Regions from separate parts of the Homo sapiens genome. Here region 1 is linked to region 2. The links come from fine-mapping of genetic effects on gene expression. Tissue or cell type: fibroblasts. Region 2 holds a variant in brackets; the other region holds the start of a gene. All regions are shown on one strand. Distances are between the middles of the regions.

Evidence for each region. PIP is the estimated chance that this variant, and not a neighbour inherited with it, causes the effect.
Region 1: it holds the start of KCNQ5, and the variant in region 2 is fine-mapped to the expression of KCNQ5 in fibroblasts (GTEx, PIP 0.97).

What each region holds. Positions count from the first base shown.
Region 1 is chr6:72,618,758-72,626,940 of GRCh38, forward strand. It overlaps KCNQ5 (potassium voltage-gated channel subfamily Q member 5), which reads left to right and starts at 3,307. Exons shown (of 14, transcript NM_019842.4): 1 at 3,307-3,830. The coding sequence starts at 3,433. It overlaps KCNQ5-DT (KCNQ5 divergent transcript), which reads right to left and starts at 3,922. Exons shown (of 3, transcript NR_186827.1): 1 at 3,775-3,922. RefSeq lists enhancers at 1,692-1,881, 3,992-4,943 and silencers at 3,302-3,561, 4,592-4,641.
Region 2 is chr6:72,860,791-72,868,973 of GRCh38, forward strand. The region is part of intron 1 of KCNQ5 (potassium voltage-gated channel subfamily Q member 5); the gene reads left to right. Among named protein-coding and RNA genes, the nearest start is that of MIR4282, 100 kb to the right of the region's middle. The variant A/G (reference allele first, on the strand shown) is at 4,890.

The DNA.
Region 1 (8,183 bases), 240 kb before region 2:
TATTATTATTTCAGAGTACCTTTCAGAAGAATAATACAATGGGATAGAAAACACACTGAGGCCAGGAGCAGTGGCTCACGCCTGTAATCCCAGCACTTTGAGAGGCTGAGGTGGAAGAATTGCTTGAGTTCAGGAGTTGGAGACCAGCCTGGGCAAAACAGCAAGACCCCATCTCCAAAAAAGAAAAAGAAACACACTAAAATAAAATATCTCTAGAAACTATGTTCAGTTGAAACCATATCCATGTAGACTTCAGAAAATGTTTCCAAGGTCATAAATTTCAGGCAAGCATCTTAAGAGAATGAATGAGTAAAAGCAAACACATCTCAAAAGATGGGGAGGGCCAATCAACTCACATACTTTACACTAGCAGTTAACATTTGCCTTTACCTCTTCATAATGCTCTAATGTAATTATAATGCATAGAATATACACTGTTTTACTCACTGCTCAGTATGCCTATCCTCTTTTCTAAATTTGAATTTTAATATTTCAGCAAAACGAACTAATAAAAGGCAGTTTCCTAGCAACGTCTGTATTCAAAGGAACAACAACAAAGCTTAATCGCAAACACCTTATTTTCTCCAAAGTTAATTCCCGTCTTTTGAGGGAAGTTAGCAGGTAGCAAATAAAGCAAGGTGCAAACAGAGGCTCTTGTAGGAGAGGTTGGCACAGACTCACTTGGCTTTTTCTTTCTGGGCATTGAAAGGTAGGAAGGTTAGAACTTCAGCTAAGCCAGTCTTTCCCAATGGTTGCAGTCAGAGATTGATACAAAACCCCAGAACTGTTTGCTATTTTATCCATTCTCTGCTGGAGATGCAGATTGATTGGTGGAAGGAACAGTGAACTAGGAAGCCAGGTTGTTGGATTCCTAGTAACTCTCACACTACCCGCGAAAACTTGAGCAGGCCCTCTTTTTCTGGGCTGTGTATCCAAATGGCGGTTACTCTAGAAGACATAAGTGAAAGGTCCTTCTCAGCAGCTCAAAACGGCTACCAGTAACCGGGTCTTTTTTATTTTTTAATTAAGCTTAAATGGCATTTGCTTAATCAATAATACAGTTTCACTAGAACTAATGCTGCATCCCCAGAAAAGCATCACTTAGAAATTAAACAGCTGGCTGTCTTCCAGGGAAACGTGTCCCTGTGTCCTGCCTTCCTGAGACTTCTTGCCTGCACGCGGGGCCCAGCCGCGCCAGAGAGATGGAAGTGACTTTACCTACCCAGCGAAAGTAGCAGTCTGCAACAAGGAAAACAGCTAAGTTAAGAGGAAGTGGTTTTCATTTTACTGCTTGCAGAAAGGCCAAGATTTTGACGTTTAAAGCGGGCACACGAGTCATTTTAAGTCTCTAGATCTTTCACCCTGAAAGTCCCTGCACAGAAACTCCATAGGGAGTCTAAATATAGCAACAGCACCCCCTCCCGCCCCCTCCGCCTTCAGTCAGGGTCCCGCGCAGCTCTAGGATTGGAGAGCTTACTCCAGGGCGCTCTCTGCATCTGCCTCGAATAGCACCGCACGGAGCAACCTCTCTCGCACCTCCACAGTGCGTGGGTGTGAAGTGTATTAGGGGAAAGCTAGAGAGTGACTCTGGGTGATGGTGCTCGGCTCACAGTCACATGGCGTCGCCGCCAGCTGCACAGAGCTCCCAGCTAGCTTCTGCTGCCCAGAGGCTTGGGGGGAAGGAGGGAGGGAAGCAGGCTCCTGCTGGTGACCAGGAGCAGGCGAGAGGGCTTCACACAAATAATAGTGATAATAAAGAGTAAAAGCAAAGCATTTAAATCGAGCTATTGCAGAAGACAGAAATCAGCTGCCGCGGGCGTGGGTGTGTGTACAGGGTGGGGGAGAATTGGGAAAGTATTTATCTCGGAGGGGCGGAGACAGCTGCAAGAAGACTTTTGTCTTAGCATTGTTTTAGCCTTAGGAAAGGAAAAGGCCCGAAGGAATCCACCTTGCAACTATCTGCTATGTCTTTGTGGTGGAAGCTTAGTTTTGCCTTCAATTTAATTTGATGATTTTCTTTCATATTTGGGGAAGAGCCACTCTGTTGGAAGAAGTCCCCGAGCCTGGCACCCTTCAGTTTTCCCTATGCTGAATGTGAGATTTAAACTGCCTTTTCTTTGTAATACACTGTTTCTGAAGGCCAGAGGCTGCGGCCAGTGGCACCGTGGCCTCTCTCTCCGCCAAGGGCGCATAGGCTTTGGGCCACCCGGGTGCCAGGGGTGGTGGAAGACCCAGTCAGTTGTTCCTTGCAACAGGTCTCTAAGCTTGTATGTTACAACATAAGGTGGGTGGGGTCGGAACCCCGAAAAGCCGGCGTCCTGGACACCCCATCCTCCAGGTGTTCTTTCCCAGACACTGGGTCCTCGCCGCCGCTGCTGAACTTCTCAATCATATGACTTTCTCGGACTTAAATGGAAATTTCTTGACGGAGGGAACTGGGTTTGTTCTCCCAGGCTTCGCGCTGCAGTCAGGCAGAGCCCCGGGGCAGCTCGCTCACCGCGGAGGAGCCACTTTGGAGTTTTACGCCCTTTCCACACCCCACCCATGGACTGGAAAGGATGTTCAGTTACTCGCGAGCTTGTCTGATACTGGGATGGAAAGTCACAGTCCGCAGGCTGGAGTGAGGCGCGGGAAGATGCCTGGTCCTTGCCTCGCGGACTTGGCAGCCGCGTCCTGCGGGTCTGTCCACTGAACTGCTGAGGACTCGCCCGTGTGCGGGGACCCGAGTGCCACTTCCCGGAGCGTTACCTTGCGCTCCAGCCTCCAGGCTAGATAATACCTGGAAGGCAGGGCAGGGCTGTTCCCGCTCTCACCCCTTGCGGAAGGATGGCAGGATCCGGCGCAGCGACGTAGCAGCGGGAGGGCACAGCGACCTGCATCTCCAGTTTCTCCTCAGGACACAAGGCTGACTTCACCTTCCGGACAGCTGCAAAGCCCCTGCCAGAACCAAACCGAACTCGCGCCTCGGAGAGGGGCTTCTGGGGCCGTTTCGCTGCAGGGCGTGGGGAGTGGAGAGAGGGAAGGGGAAGCCTGGGGCTGGGTGTGCGCGCGTGGGAGCGCGCCTCGGAGCGCCCCGCACTCCCCCACTCTATCCCCGGGGGCAGTTTGGGAAGGAGGGAGTGGTAGTCGCGGGAATGAGGGAGCAAGAGAAACCCTCTCAAAGTGACGCCCCAAACAGGTCCGGATTTAGAATTCGAAGCTAAAGGCTGTTAGAAATTGGGACTCCTCGGCCTCCTCTGCAGCCCCTCCTTTCCCGCCCCGAAGCCCGGGCGGTTTGCTGGCTGCCTGCTTCCCCGCCCCCGGCTCAGAGGTCTCTGGCTGGCGGGCGCCCCGTCGGCCGCCGGCTTCCTCCTTGAAACCCGCCGGCGCACATGAGGCCGCTGCCCCCGCCGCAGGCGCTGGCGGCCCCCTCGCGGTGCCCGTGGTGATGCCATGCCCCGCCACCACGCGGGAGGAGAGGAGGGCGGCGCCGCCGGGCTCTGGGTGAAGAGCGGCGCAGCGGCGGCGGCGGCGGGCGGGGGGCGCTTGGGCAGCGGCATGAAGGATGTGGAGTCCGGCCGGGGCAGGGTGCTGCTGAACTCGGCAGCCGCCAGGGGCGACGGCCTGCTACTGCTGGGCACCCGCGCGGCCACGCTCGGTGGCGGCGGCGGTGGCCTGAGGGAGAGCCGCCGGGGCAAGCAGGGGGCCCGGATGAGCCTGCTGGGGAAGCCGCTCTCTTACACGAGTAGCCAGAGCTGCCGGCGCAACGTCAAGTACCGGCGGGTGCAGAACTACCTGTACAACGTGCTGGAGAGACCCCGCGGCTGGGCGTTCATCTACCACGCTTTCGTGTGAGTACCCGCGCCCCCTGCTATGCCCGCTGCAGGGGACCACTGTCCCTGGCCCCCTGGGGCGTGCTCCGCGCTCGCGCCCTTGGGCCCCCGCGCGCGTGCACACGTGGTGGCTTTTATTTCTTCGCACGTGTTCGTGGTCTTCCTTCTGGAGCCTCTCCCCTCCCCCAGCCCCACTTCTCTCATCTCTACAGCTTGAACCTTTTCCCCGAGGACACCCAATGAACTGCCCGGTAGCTTCAGGCTCCCGGGGCGAGAGCCAGGCAGACGCGGGACTTAGGCTGCGCGGATAATTGGGAGCAATTAGGTCCCAAGATACGTAAACTTCAACCGAACGGGGCGCCCGGGAGCTAGGGAATGCAAAGGGAGGACAGGCGCCCGTGTGAGGCTTGAGAGTATACTGGAGAGGTTAGGAGGTGATGGCGGGGTAGGACGGGGAGAAGTGAGGGGGCATCGAGGGCTAGGTCCTCAGTCCTAGGGGCGGAGTAGGGGAAGCTGCTACTTGGAGAGAGCTGCTAGGTTTTAAGCGCGCCCGGAAACACGCCTCGCCACCACCCAGCCACCACCAACGGAAAATCTGTCAGTGCATGTAGCCCTTCCTGCCACGGAGAAGGTGGCCAAGGTCTAGAGGAGGCCAGCAGGCCAGGCGAAGCAACGCTCCCGCGCTGCAGGGGGCGGGGAGGCAGCGGGGAACCTGGGGCGCAGGAACGCGGGCGGAGGTGCGATAGCAGAAGCGCAAATGGGTCGCCTCTGACAGAGATCGGGCAGTGGGTTAAGTCCCCGTTTGTGGCGCGGAGTCAAAGAGTGTGTGTGTGTGTGTGTGTGTGTGTGTGTGTGTGTAGTAAGCCTTCTCCATCTAGCAGAGAATGCTTAATGAGAAAATGATTGGAAGCAAATGTTTATTTTTCCCTTAGGCATTTAAAACCTTTCAGTGGCTTTAAAGTTTACTACTGTTTTTCCCACAAAGTCCATTCATTCAGTCTCCTATTAGAGTTACGTTTATCTGGGCATTTTAAGGTTGTTTTTATAATGTTACCTCGTGTCTAATTCTTTTTTTCTTCCTCTTCTCCTTTTGCTTCCTCTTTTTTTAGTATTATTATTTCTGCTTCTTTTTTGTTAAGATGAAATATAAAGACATCAACCTTAGAAGACCAGTAGAGAAAGTTGCAGATACTCGCTGATACATTCCTTGTTTCCTAGTAAAATAAGTTTTGAGCACACGGACTAGGTTTCTTTTAGAAATAAGTTATGTCATCCATACATAGCTCTCTCCTGGGATGCAGAATTAGCATCAACACCAGAAACGTGTTTTGAAATAACATGGAAGAAGGGCTGGTTTTGTAACTAGGTGAACCTGGAATTCAACCACATAGGAGTCAGGAAATTGGTGGAGTCTACAATCTGTGGGGCTCTGGTGTCTGGAAAATTTTACAGTCCCAGATTGACGTGAACATGTAGCATTAGGCAGAATATTCCAGCCAACTTTCCGTTTTACAATGCACACAAGGAGAACGGTTGTGTTGCATCATCATTACATCAAAAAGTATAACTTTTATGTAAAATTCACATTTATTTAAATGTGGTTAGGATAATGATAGAGAAATGCAACTGACACTTTTCTCGTTAATCTCCTCTGACCTGATATGTAATTAAACATATTACTTAATAAGCCTGGTAAATTATTTTGACCTGTCAGAATATACTAAAATAATTTAGCAATTATAATGCTCAATTTGGTAGCAAATATATATACTGTATAGGTTATGATTTTTTCTTTACAACAGTATGCTCAAAACATTTCTAGCCTTTCTTTTTTTTATATTATGCATTGTATATTCAGAGAGAGTTAAAGAAAGCCTTGGTTGGTGCACATACTTTGCATCTCCTAACTTGTTCTTGAACATGAATGAGAACTTGCAACACAACATTTTCTTTTCCATGTGTTGGTGTTAACAGGTTTGTATGGGCTTACAGAATTTTAAAACATTAATAAATGATTTTTCCAAAGGTTCAAGGTTGGATACTTCTCTGTCTACCAGGCTTTATCAGTCTAGCAGTATCTTTAGTAGTAGACAGGAAATAAATTGTGTACTTAATAGATGTAGCAAATGTGAAGTTTTGATTATACATTTTAGAGTCTGAAACTGCAATGCCTCAGCAATTAGATAGGGGTGCTATATCCACATTAGCACAAAGAGGGAATGGATAGTATCATCTTTTGGGAGGATTGTGCACAACTAAGCAGACCCTGAGGAAAGAGGCCATCTTTGGCAGTTGCTGCTTGTGATTTTAAATGAGCTTTAGAATAGCCAGACTTTACACATTACATTCATTTATCGAAGTTGCTTTATGCTGTAAGTTTAACTAGACCCCAATAAAATAATTTCGAGAGAGGTGTAACTAACTAATTCCCTGCCAGCTTGGGAATCCCCAAATCTTATTTTAATAACAGTATTTGTAGCATATTAAGGTTCTTGCCAAGAACAAGTGCACCGTGATTAATGAGGTACTTCAGGGGTGAATTTACTTGGTCAACCAGTGTTTTCACTGCCAAGAAACAAGAAAAGCATGTTTAAAGTTATGCTTGAGGTAAATATAAATTTCTATTATTTATGCAAAAATAATTATTATAATGGTATTTTAGGGTTATAAAATGTCTTTTCAAGAGTACATATCCTAGCCTATTGATAGGATGGCTGGACAGAGCAAGGGATGACCTACTTCAAATATTTTCCCTTAAACTTTATAAATTAGTGGAGATTAGGAGATCCTTGCCCTTACTATTCTTTAGGATTTACCTGACAGCCATATTTCCTATCTTCAACTTTTCTTCATTTTATTAGTGTGCTATTCAAACATGAGGTGGCTCATTTCCCTGAATGTTGTTTGTCCCTTTTTAATTCCTCCTTGTTTAAGGAAAATTTTGAAGAATAATGAGGGTAGTAGGGGGACACAGGATGAGGCTTCATATATAAATTTGCGTTGATGCAGCAAATGTGGTTCTGAGAAGTTACATGGGAAACGGTGTTGCAGATACATGTAATTGATCACTTTGCCTAATGTATCTTTGCCTGACTTAATGCTATGGATGTGAATTATAGATATTAAACAAGGAGACAAGAAGAAGTCACCCAAGCTAGGAGCTCTGAAGTCATCCTTTTTCTCATACTTACTCCTTCTGGTCAGGCAAAAGGTCATTAACTATTGTTTGTTTACTTTATAGGTATTTTTCAAATACATTCCCTTTTCTTCTTTACCACTTCTATTCCATTCTGTTTCTTACCTCTCCATTAGATGATTTGTAATATTCTCCTGCCTGATCATCTGGTTTCTGTTCTCAGCCTTCTCTCTGCTCTAACATCATAGTATTGTTCGTAAAATGCAAATCTTATCATATCATCCCCTTGCCTAAAATATTTCCATGACTCTTATCATCTACTCCTTCATCTATGTATCCATCTACAATTATTAGAGTGTGTAATATGTGCTAATTCCCAAATTAACAAGGCAAAGGCCTCCACTCTGGAGGAAGGAAAAGACGCCAGCAAGGGACTACTACAAGCCTGTGAACAAGTGTGAAACAATGTTATTGGTGTGCTTAGAGAGAGAGGTTACAAAGTGACATGAGAAAAGAAAAAGAAGTGAAGCCCGGGCAGAAAAGTCAGCACAGGCTTCAAAGGGGAAGTGAGGTGTAAGCTGAGTTTCCACAAATGAGTAGTTAATTTTCAGGTGGGCATAGCAGGAGGGAATGAACAATCTTGACAGAGAAAACAGCTTGAGTAAAGATATGGAGTTGTGAATCAGCACAGTAATTCTAGGTACTGTTAAGTATTTTCAGGGTGAGGAAAGCCACAAGAAAGGGTGGTAGAGCAAAAGGCAAATCACCAATCTGTTGGATAGATTCTGATGCTGACCATAGAATCTTGTATTTATCCTGTAGGCAGTAGTGGTCATTGAATGGTGATAATCAGGGGAATGATATAATCAGATATAAATTTTGGAAAGATCTGCCTTTCATTAGTTCAGCAAATAAATTGGAGTGCAAAATGGAGTCAATATGGCCTATAAGGAGATGATACCAATTGTGAGAATTTTCCATTCATTGTTGCATTCATTTATTCATAAACTTATTCTGTGAAATGTCTGTTGACTATCGACTATATGCTGTGGATCATACTAGAAAGGTGAGAGATGATTGCCTAAGGAACTAAGGCAGTAACTGTGGAGATGAGAAGGAGGAGTTTAACCAAAGAAATGTTAAGGAGATAAAATTTGCAGATTGTTTTCACCAGTCTGACATGTGGTATGAGGAAGATGATTCTGACTTGGTTGATTTGAGGAATGGAAGTGCCA
Region 2 (8,183 bases):
TTCTTGGTCTTAATGTATTCCTGGCTCATCACTGTCCTTTTAAGGCATGTGTGTGTGTGTGTGTATGTGTGTGTGTGTGTGTGTATGTTTTAGGGGAATAGAGGAAGGGAAAGGAAAAGAAGTCAGACTCTACTCTGAGTAGTTTTCCCTTTGATTGTTATGTTTTGTCCATTTCATAGACATTAGTAATTATATATACAATATTAGAAGCTTTATCTGAAGTGTTCTGTGGATATTAGGGTTGAGAGCTCATATTTTTTAAGATAGCAATGTAAGTATTGCTATCCAGTCCTCTAAAATATTCCCAGACTGATAGGATTAGAAGAGTGGCCACCAGGCAATTTGAAACCCTTCAAGGACGTGATGAGAATGAAGAAGTCCAGCCAAACAGGGAAACAGCATGTGCCTCATGAATTTTCTTTTTTGTTAATAATGACTCAAGAAGAAAACAGGTGGTTGTAACTATGCAGACCAAGCAGCAAAATTCCAAATACAGAAAATAAACCTCAGAGATTCCTTTAAAGGATTATTTAAACACAAACAAATTCCTAGGGGACAGTAACAAAATTGAAATATGTAGAAGAAAGACCAGTGTGGTGTGTATGGAATTAGAGAATGAGTTGTGAGTGTGACCCTCAGAATCCCGGGAGCACATAGGCTTCCAGAGATGAAATGGCCAAAGAAAGAATTCACCAGAATGTCCCTAAGTAAAGGTCTCCAGAAAAAAGTTTCCTTGGAAATTCAGTTCAGATTCCTCCTGACCTTCTGCAAAAGATTCTCCTTAGTGTGTGTCTGGATATCTTCCTCAGAAATGACTTGATTGTAAACAGAGAGAAAAGGAAATTAATGGAGCTTAAGCTTTAGGGCCTCTCACTTGAGCTTCATGGGACCCTGTACCAAATTGTCTGTTGTAATTTTGAATTCTTCTTCTGGAGAAGGCTCCCAAAATGATATATGTTTCGGGCCCCATAAAACCTGGATACATATGTAACTAACCTGCACAATGTGCACATGTACCCTAAAACTTAAAGTATAATAAAAAAAAAAAACCTGGATCCACCCCCAGCTGTCAAGTATAAAAACTCCTTTAAACCAACTAGAGTAAGTCATCTCTCCTGAGGTCTCTAGCTTTTTCTTTCTACCCTTCTCACTGTGTCTGCTCCTTTTTCCTGCCCTCTGCCAGTTTTCTCAGCCTACTCATGACTTCCCGGCCCTACTAAATCTTTAGTACATGTGGTTCTGGCTGGCAGTGGTGCTAAGTCTGGCTCAGACTCTATGTGAACTTTCAAACCAAACTCCCACAGGCAAGTTAACTGACTCCTGTCCTTCTGCCCCAATTCCAAATTCCTTGGAGAGGGACCTGTCTGTCTAGCACAAGCTGGTTGTCACCTGGATCCAGTCAGCTGTAGCTGGGCTAACTGGGGAGGGTCCTGTCATGGGCCCATAGAACTGCTTCTTGGAAAGTGAGAGGGGAAATTCTCTAAGGAGGAGTAAGTGAGGAGGCCATAAATGTCATGTCTACTGTATTTAAAAAGGAAGTTGACTAAGTGTTTTCAATCTGCCAAAGATACACTAAGAGCTGAAGAGGGAGGGGCACTAGCAAATAACTTGCTTCCTCATTATGATTCCCGTAGTGTTCCAAAGCCACTGCTTTCCTGCTGTCTCTTTTTTTAGTACTTTTTAAATCCCTCAGTAAGTTGCTTTCAAAAGATTTTTTCTAATTAACAGAATATGTCATAAGCTCATTCTAGTATTCTACCACCCTTATAATCAAGTTTTGTCCAGTGAGTCCATTAGGCTAGGGGAAAAAACCTAGCCAATGTCTTCCTACTTTTTTATTTATTTATTTATTTTTGAGACAGGGTCTCGCTCTGTCACCTAGGCTGGAGTCCAGTGGTGCAATATTGGCTCATTGCAGCCTCAACCTCCTGAGCTCAAGCAATCCTCCCACCTCACCCTCCCGAATAACTGGGACTACAGGCACTCAGCACCATGCCTGGCTAAGTTTTTAATTTTTTGTACAGATGAAGTCTCACTGTGTTGCCCAGATTCATCTTGAACTCCTGGACTCAAGCAATCCTTCTGCCTCATCATCCCAAAGTGCAGGAATTATAGGTACAAACCACTGCACCGGGCCACCAATGTCTTTTAAATATCTAAAAATTTATAATTGTTTGTTTTTCTCCTTGCACTGTTATTCATAGGAATGTTGCCAAAAAAGAGAAATTGTATTATTTTCCAGAGAAAATAGGCTAAAAACTGGAAGCAGCTTATGGCAGACTAAATGACTCAGTTGCTACTGTGTGTATAAACGTACCCTGTAAAGTGTAGAGGATGCATTTCTCAGCAACAGGTGTGCCTTAAATGTGTTAGATGGGAACATAGGAAAAGTATGGCCCCAGGCTTCTAGGAAAAAAACAGCCTTTTCCTGCCCATACTAAATAGCCACTTAGAGACTAGAGTTTTTCCAGACCCTTACATGTTAATCCTTTTTAACAAGTTACCAGATAGCTGAACACAAACTGGGTCAAGCAAGTCTGTTTCTCAGAAGGCAAGATGTCCCATCCTAACACCATAAATCACACTCACTTTAGAAATACGTTTTTCTTTGATCCAAATGTCTTTTCTTAATAACTCATTCCTAAGATTTCCATTTTCAGATTCCTGTTTTTGCATAAGATTGCATGAAATATTTTTTGCCATTACACACAGTGCATTTTATTGAAAGGACTCTAAAGGGCTTAGGGAAAGGAAAATTTCCCTAAACTGCAAAGAAAGTCAGCTAATCATTCTGAAACATAATAAAAACTAGTTTTTAAAAATAGCTCATGATAGGTAATGGGGAGTAGGTAGACCCAAACAAGATTGGTCAGTTTCTACCTGGACAATAAAGTAAGGCATTAATTTCCTTCAGATATAGGTATTTCTGTAGCAGATATTTTTTAGAATTTTTTTAAAAGTTGTGTAAGGGTGTTTTATTTATCAGAAAAAATAAATGTATTTTGAACTGTTTGAAATGTAATCCAAAAATTACAGCTGAAAACATCAATTATTTAAATTTATGTTACACAAATAATTGTAAGTCTTGTGTACTGGAAGTAAACAATAAAAGTATGAATTTTCTTTTGACCACCCCTTTCCCCTACCAGGGGAATAATGGCTCCATGGCAGAGGCAGTTTGTACCTCAGTCCATATACATCCCCTTCTTATTGGCATTGCAGAGGGATTGCAGCCTCCCCGCGGCAAGTAGCTCAATAACCAAATATTGAAACTGTCTGAGTCTGTACCCTGCTGCCCATGTCATAAATTCTTGTATCTTAAGGTATCAATTTTTTATATGCTTTACTTTTACTTATGCTTTTTATTCCTATGCCCTTTCCCTTGTACTCTACACCTACCTGAAATGCAGCATGCATGCCAGCCATGCCTATATCCCATGAACACTACCTCCAATGCTACCTGACTCTCTACCCTTCCACTTTTCTTTTTATTATCATTAAAGTAATAATGGGCCATTAGTACTACTCAAGACACAAAGCCAAGGAGTTTACAAAAACTAAATTACTAAGTACTGTCCTAGCAGCCTTCCTAACTTAATGCCAGTTCCAAAACGGCAAACTCTTTGCCCAGAAGCAATGTTTGTTCACTGAGAAAATCTGGGTCAGTACATGGCCTTAGTTAAGCCACTTGTTTTTTCTTTATCTCATTTTCCCCCACTGTGGAATTAGCCTGGTTATTGGCAAAACACTCTGATATTTTTATTAAATATTAAAATGTTAGCAGTAGCCAAAGCTTGAGTGAATTTGATTTTATGAAGCCATGCAGAATTATTTGGAGATGCTAGTTTCTCTCAATAATAACATCACTACATAATTTAATTTCATACACACACACACAGGGTCCTAAAAGTCTTAGCACAATTTTAGGCTTGACTAATTTAGAAATATAAGTGCTACAAACTTAAAAAAAAAACTCCACATAATTTGAAAGTTTAACTAGACTTCTTTCTCATTTGTTTACTTTTGTGAATTTTGAATAATAAAATTTTAGTTTTGATTGTTTTTGTTTAAACATTTGCTACTTTCAGTCAGAAAAACTGACATGTATTTCAAGGATATGGGAAAACTAGCATTGTAAGAATTACAGAGCTCTTCACATCTGAGTCAATATTTGTACATTGCTTTAAATATAGTTCATGTCTTTCATCCAGGAAACACTTGTTGAGAACCTTCTACCTGTAAGGCCTACATTACATCAGTTACATTTCTTCATTTAATCCTTACTGCATCTTTGGAGTTAGATATCATAATCCTCACTTGGAAAATGAGGAACTTGAAGTCTAAAGGAGTGAAGTGACTTTACCATGATACTTAGAAATTGTATGTGGAAATCAGGACCTCAATCCAAAATCCTCCAGGTCTGCATCTCAAGTTCTTTCCACACTCTTGCATTATCACTCTCCTTGTTGATGTTCTGCGTATAGACTCTATTTCATTCAAGTGTGGATATATCTAAAAGTCCTCATGAAAATGTATATTGAAAGGCAGTCTGGGCCAAAATACAGAAAATTCATAAACCAAGTACCTCATAGATATAATCTCCTTTATCCAGCATAATTAAAGGAACTAAGCAGAATTAGTGGATTCACTACAGAATATCGAACCTATCTCAGGTCATATAATGGTCCTGTCACCATTCTTCTCTCTGTAAGATTCAGTGCATTATCTCTTTGACAGGCTAATCCCTAGGATGAGCTCTTTTGATCATAAGGGATCCTGAACAGGATGTTTTGCCATCCAGAAAACCAGCACCACTGAGACGCCAGCTGGAGACATGTCACGAAAACTTGGCCCTAATTCCAAAGCCAACAGTGTGTTGAAATTAGGGC[A/G]TATCATTTGCTTAGTTCCTGACTGCATACTTTACAACTGACAACTGAAGATTACTAATAATGTCTTCTACTCATGTGTACCCCTCATCCAGGAGGAATCCAAGTCATTTTATCAGTGTGTAGCAGCCATTTAAGTCTCTGATTATAGAGTGCTTTTAAGTCCTCAGAATCTTTATTGTGGAGCAGCGCTTTTCTGCAGAGAAGGATTCTCCATTAAAGATCTAAACCTTATAAGCACTTCCTGGAACCATACTGCCTGTGTCAACTTGCCTGGTAGACAGACAAACATTTTATTGAACATATACTATATCTTGAGAGCTTTACATTATGTAATCTCAATTAACCCCACAGTACTTTCAAAATAGCTGTTATTAAACCCATTTTTTAAACAGGAATACTAAGACTTAAGTAAAAGTAAAATAGATAACTTGCCCAGAGGTCACATAATATAAAATAGCAGAGGCAAGGTTGAAATCATGTTTGTCTGATTCTGGAGTCTTCATGTTTGCAACTTTATTATGTCCCCTCAGAATTTCCCCATCATGCTTATTCTAGTTTCCTCCGCCATCTCCCTTTTTTTTTTTTTTTTTTTTTGAAACGGTCTCACTCTGGTTGCCCAGGCTGAAGTGCAGCGGTGTGATCTCGGCCCACTGCAGCCTCAACCTCCCAGGCTCAGGTGATCCTCTGACCTCAGCTTCCTAAGTAGTTGGGACTACAGATGCACACCACCATGCCTGGCTAATTTTTTGTATTTAGTAGAGATGGGGGTTTCACAATGTTGCCCAGGCTGGTCTCAAACTCCTAAACTCAAGCAATCCACTCACCTCCACCTCCCAAAGTACTGTGATTACAGACATGAGCGACTGCATCTGGCCCAGCCATCTCCATCTTTATCCTCCTTTATAAGAATCTTAGGCTTATCCAAACAAGCTAAAAGAGATGATACAGTTGTGCGTTTATAGTTAGACACATAGATCTGTCTCCAAACCACACTTAAGTCAAACCCTTTAGTTCATTTCAGTCCCTGCTATACATCCACATCAACAATTAGTTAATTTAAAAGCATGAAAACAGTTTCAGAATTTAGACTGTGACCTAATCTAACCATATTGCCTAAGGACCTTGAACCTCATAACCTCCGTCATTAACATTCTCAACACCATTAAAGATGTAATTAGAATATCTCCTTTAATTTGGAAAACTACATGAACTTCTTAATTTTAACCACCTCCCCTTTATCTGCATGAGCTCAAATTATTTGCTGGCAAAATGTATTTAATTTTTTTTTCTGTCAAGCCCTTATGAATTTAATTGATTAAGCTCTGTCACTGCCACAACTGATATAGGCATATATTGGATATTTGAGAGGCTCACCTATTAGTTTAATAGTTCAGTGATAAGTATATGTGTATACATAGAATTGAAGGAAGATAGTTTGAAATTATGTATGGGAATCAGCATTTGCTCTATGGAAGGAAATAAGTTACTGAATTGTAATCTAACTAAATATATCACAAAAAATTTGCTTAGCTTTTGCTTTCTCAGAGTTTCTCACAGTTTTCTTTATACTCCTCTTTAAAAAAGTAATTGTAAGAAAATACTTTGGTTTTGTTTAATTTGAGAATTATTTAAGTTAGAATACTTGATACCTGAAGCTCAGAGTCTCTCTTGCCAGCCTGTTAACAACTTTCTTTGGTCTTAAGGTGCCTTAAAAGAAACACAGAATGTTGTAGAACAAGGAGAATTATAAATCCACATTGGTGAAACCAACCTGCATTAGTGCTGTGTGTGTTTAGGGCATACTTGAAGAAAAATACAGATAAATGGAAGCATATTCCAAACAGAGCCAACAAGAAGGAGAAGGGATTTTTAAAACTTCACAAAGAGGTATAGTTGAAGGAACTCAAGATGTTTAACCCAAAGAAAAGAAATTGCAGAGGTAATAGAGCAGCTGTTTCCAAATAACTGGAGATTCTGGCTGAGTATGGTGGCTCATGCCTGTAATCCCAACACTTTGGGAGGCTGAGGTGGGAGGGTCACTTGAGGACAGGAGTTAAAGACCAGCCTGAGCAACATGGCAAAACCCCTTCTCTTAAAAAAAAAAAATTAACCAAGTACAGTGGGACATGCCTGTGGTCCTAGCTACTGGGAAGGTCGAGGCAGGAGGATTGCTTGAGCCTCAACACACAAGACTTCAGAGAGGTATGATCAGCCACTGCACTCCAGGCTGGGCAAGAGTGAGACTCTAAAAATAATACTAATAATACTAATACTACTACTACTACTACTACTAATAATAATAATAATAATTGGAGAGTCTTGTGGTGGAAAAGCAATTTAGACCTGTTATTTGAGATTCCAAGGAACAGACCAGGGCCAATCCGTCAGTCACATAGAGTTACATGGACTGCATGTAACTTCATGGGAGTCCTCCACCAGGACTTCCAGACAAGGAGGTAAATGTGGGCTGAAATTTTGCCATGCTCCTATGGCCAAGCACTGTGGCTTGGATTAGGCTGTGGTATGCAGAGTTTCTTTTAAAAAAATTGATCTGTTTAGAAGAGATGCCTTTTTGTAATGTGCCCAAAAGCACTGTGTGTGTTATGTAGACTCTGATTTCATGTTCACAGAATTAAAACATTTCTAATTAGTCATTTCTTTTCATGAGATAAAATCAGCTTCCTCAAAAACTAGTGGCCTTTTGGGTCTCTAAGCCCCAAGAAATTGGATGACGACTTAATAGAAATTTCATTCTAATCATGATACACACAGGCCTATTAACCAGAGGGAGTCTGGGAGTGGCCCAGACCTGAGCCTCAATTCTGGCACTGGCAGTGGTTGTTCAAAGAGTGGACCTAGCTGCAATGGAAGGAAATGAATTCAGGAGACTGCCATATTGCATTCAGTGAGTGTTATGATTGGCAACCGGTGACTCTGCAGTTGCAGCTGGCATCAAGAACCAGGCAAAGGTGACAGTCAGGTAGAGCACAATCATGGGAAAGAGAGCAACCAGTAAGCTCTATGAACAGAGCTAAATGGATGGCAGTCTACATGGTAGCTGAGCTCCCATAACGAGATGGTGTTCTGAGGAGATCTGCGGAAGGTGAGGCAGCCCCCACTTCCTAAGGAAGGTAATGAAAATAGGGATTCAAGTACAAGAAACAAGGTTGAGGGACTGGGGATAAAGTGGGGATGGTTAATGGGTACAAAAATATAGAGATAGAATGAATAAGGTCTAGTATTTCACAGCACAACAGAACAATAATTTACTGTAAACTTAAAGATAACTATTAT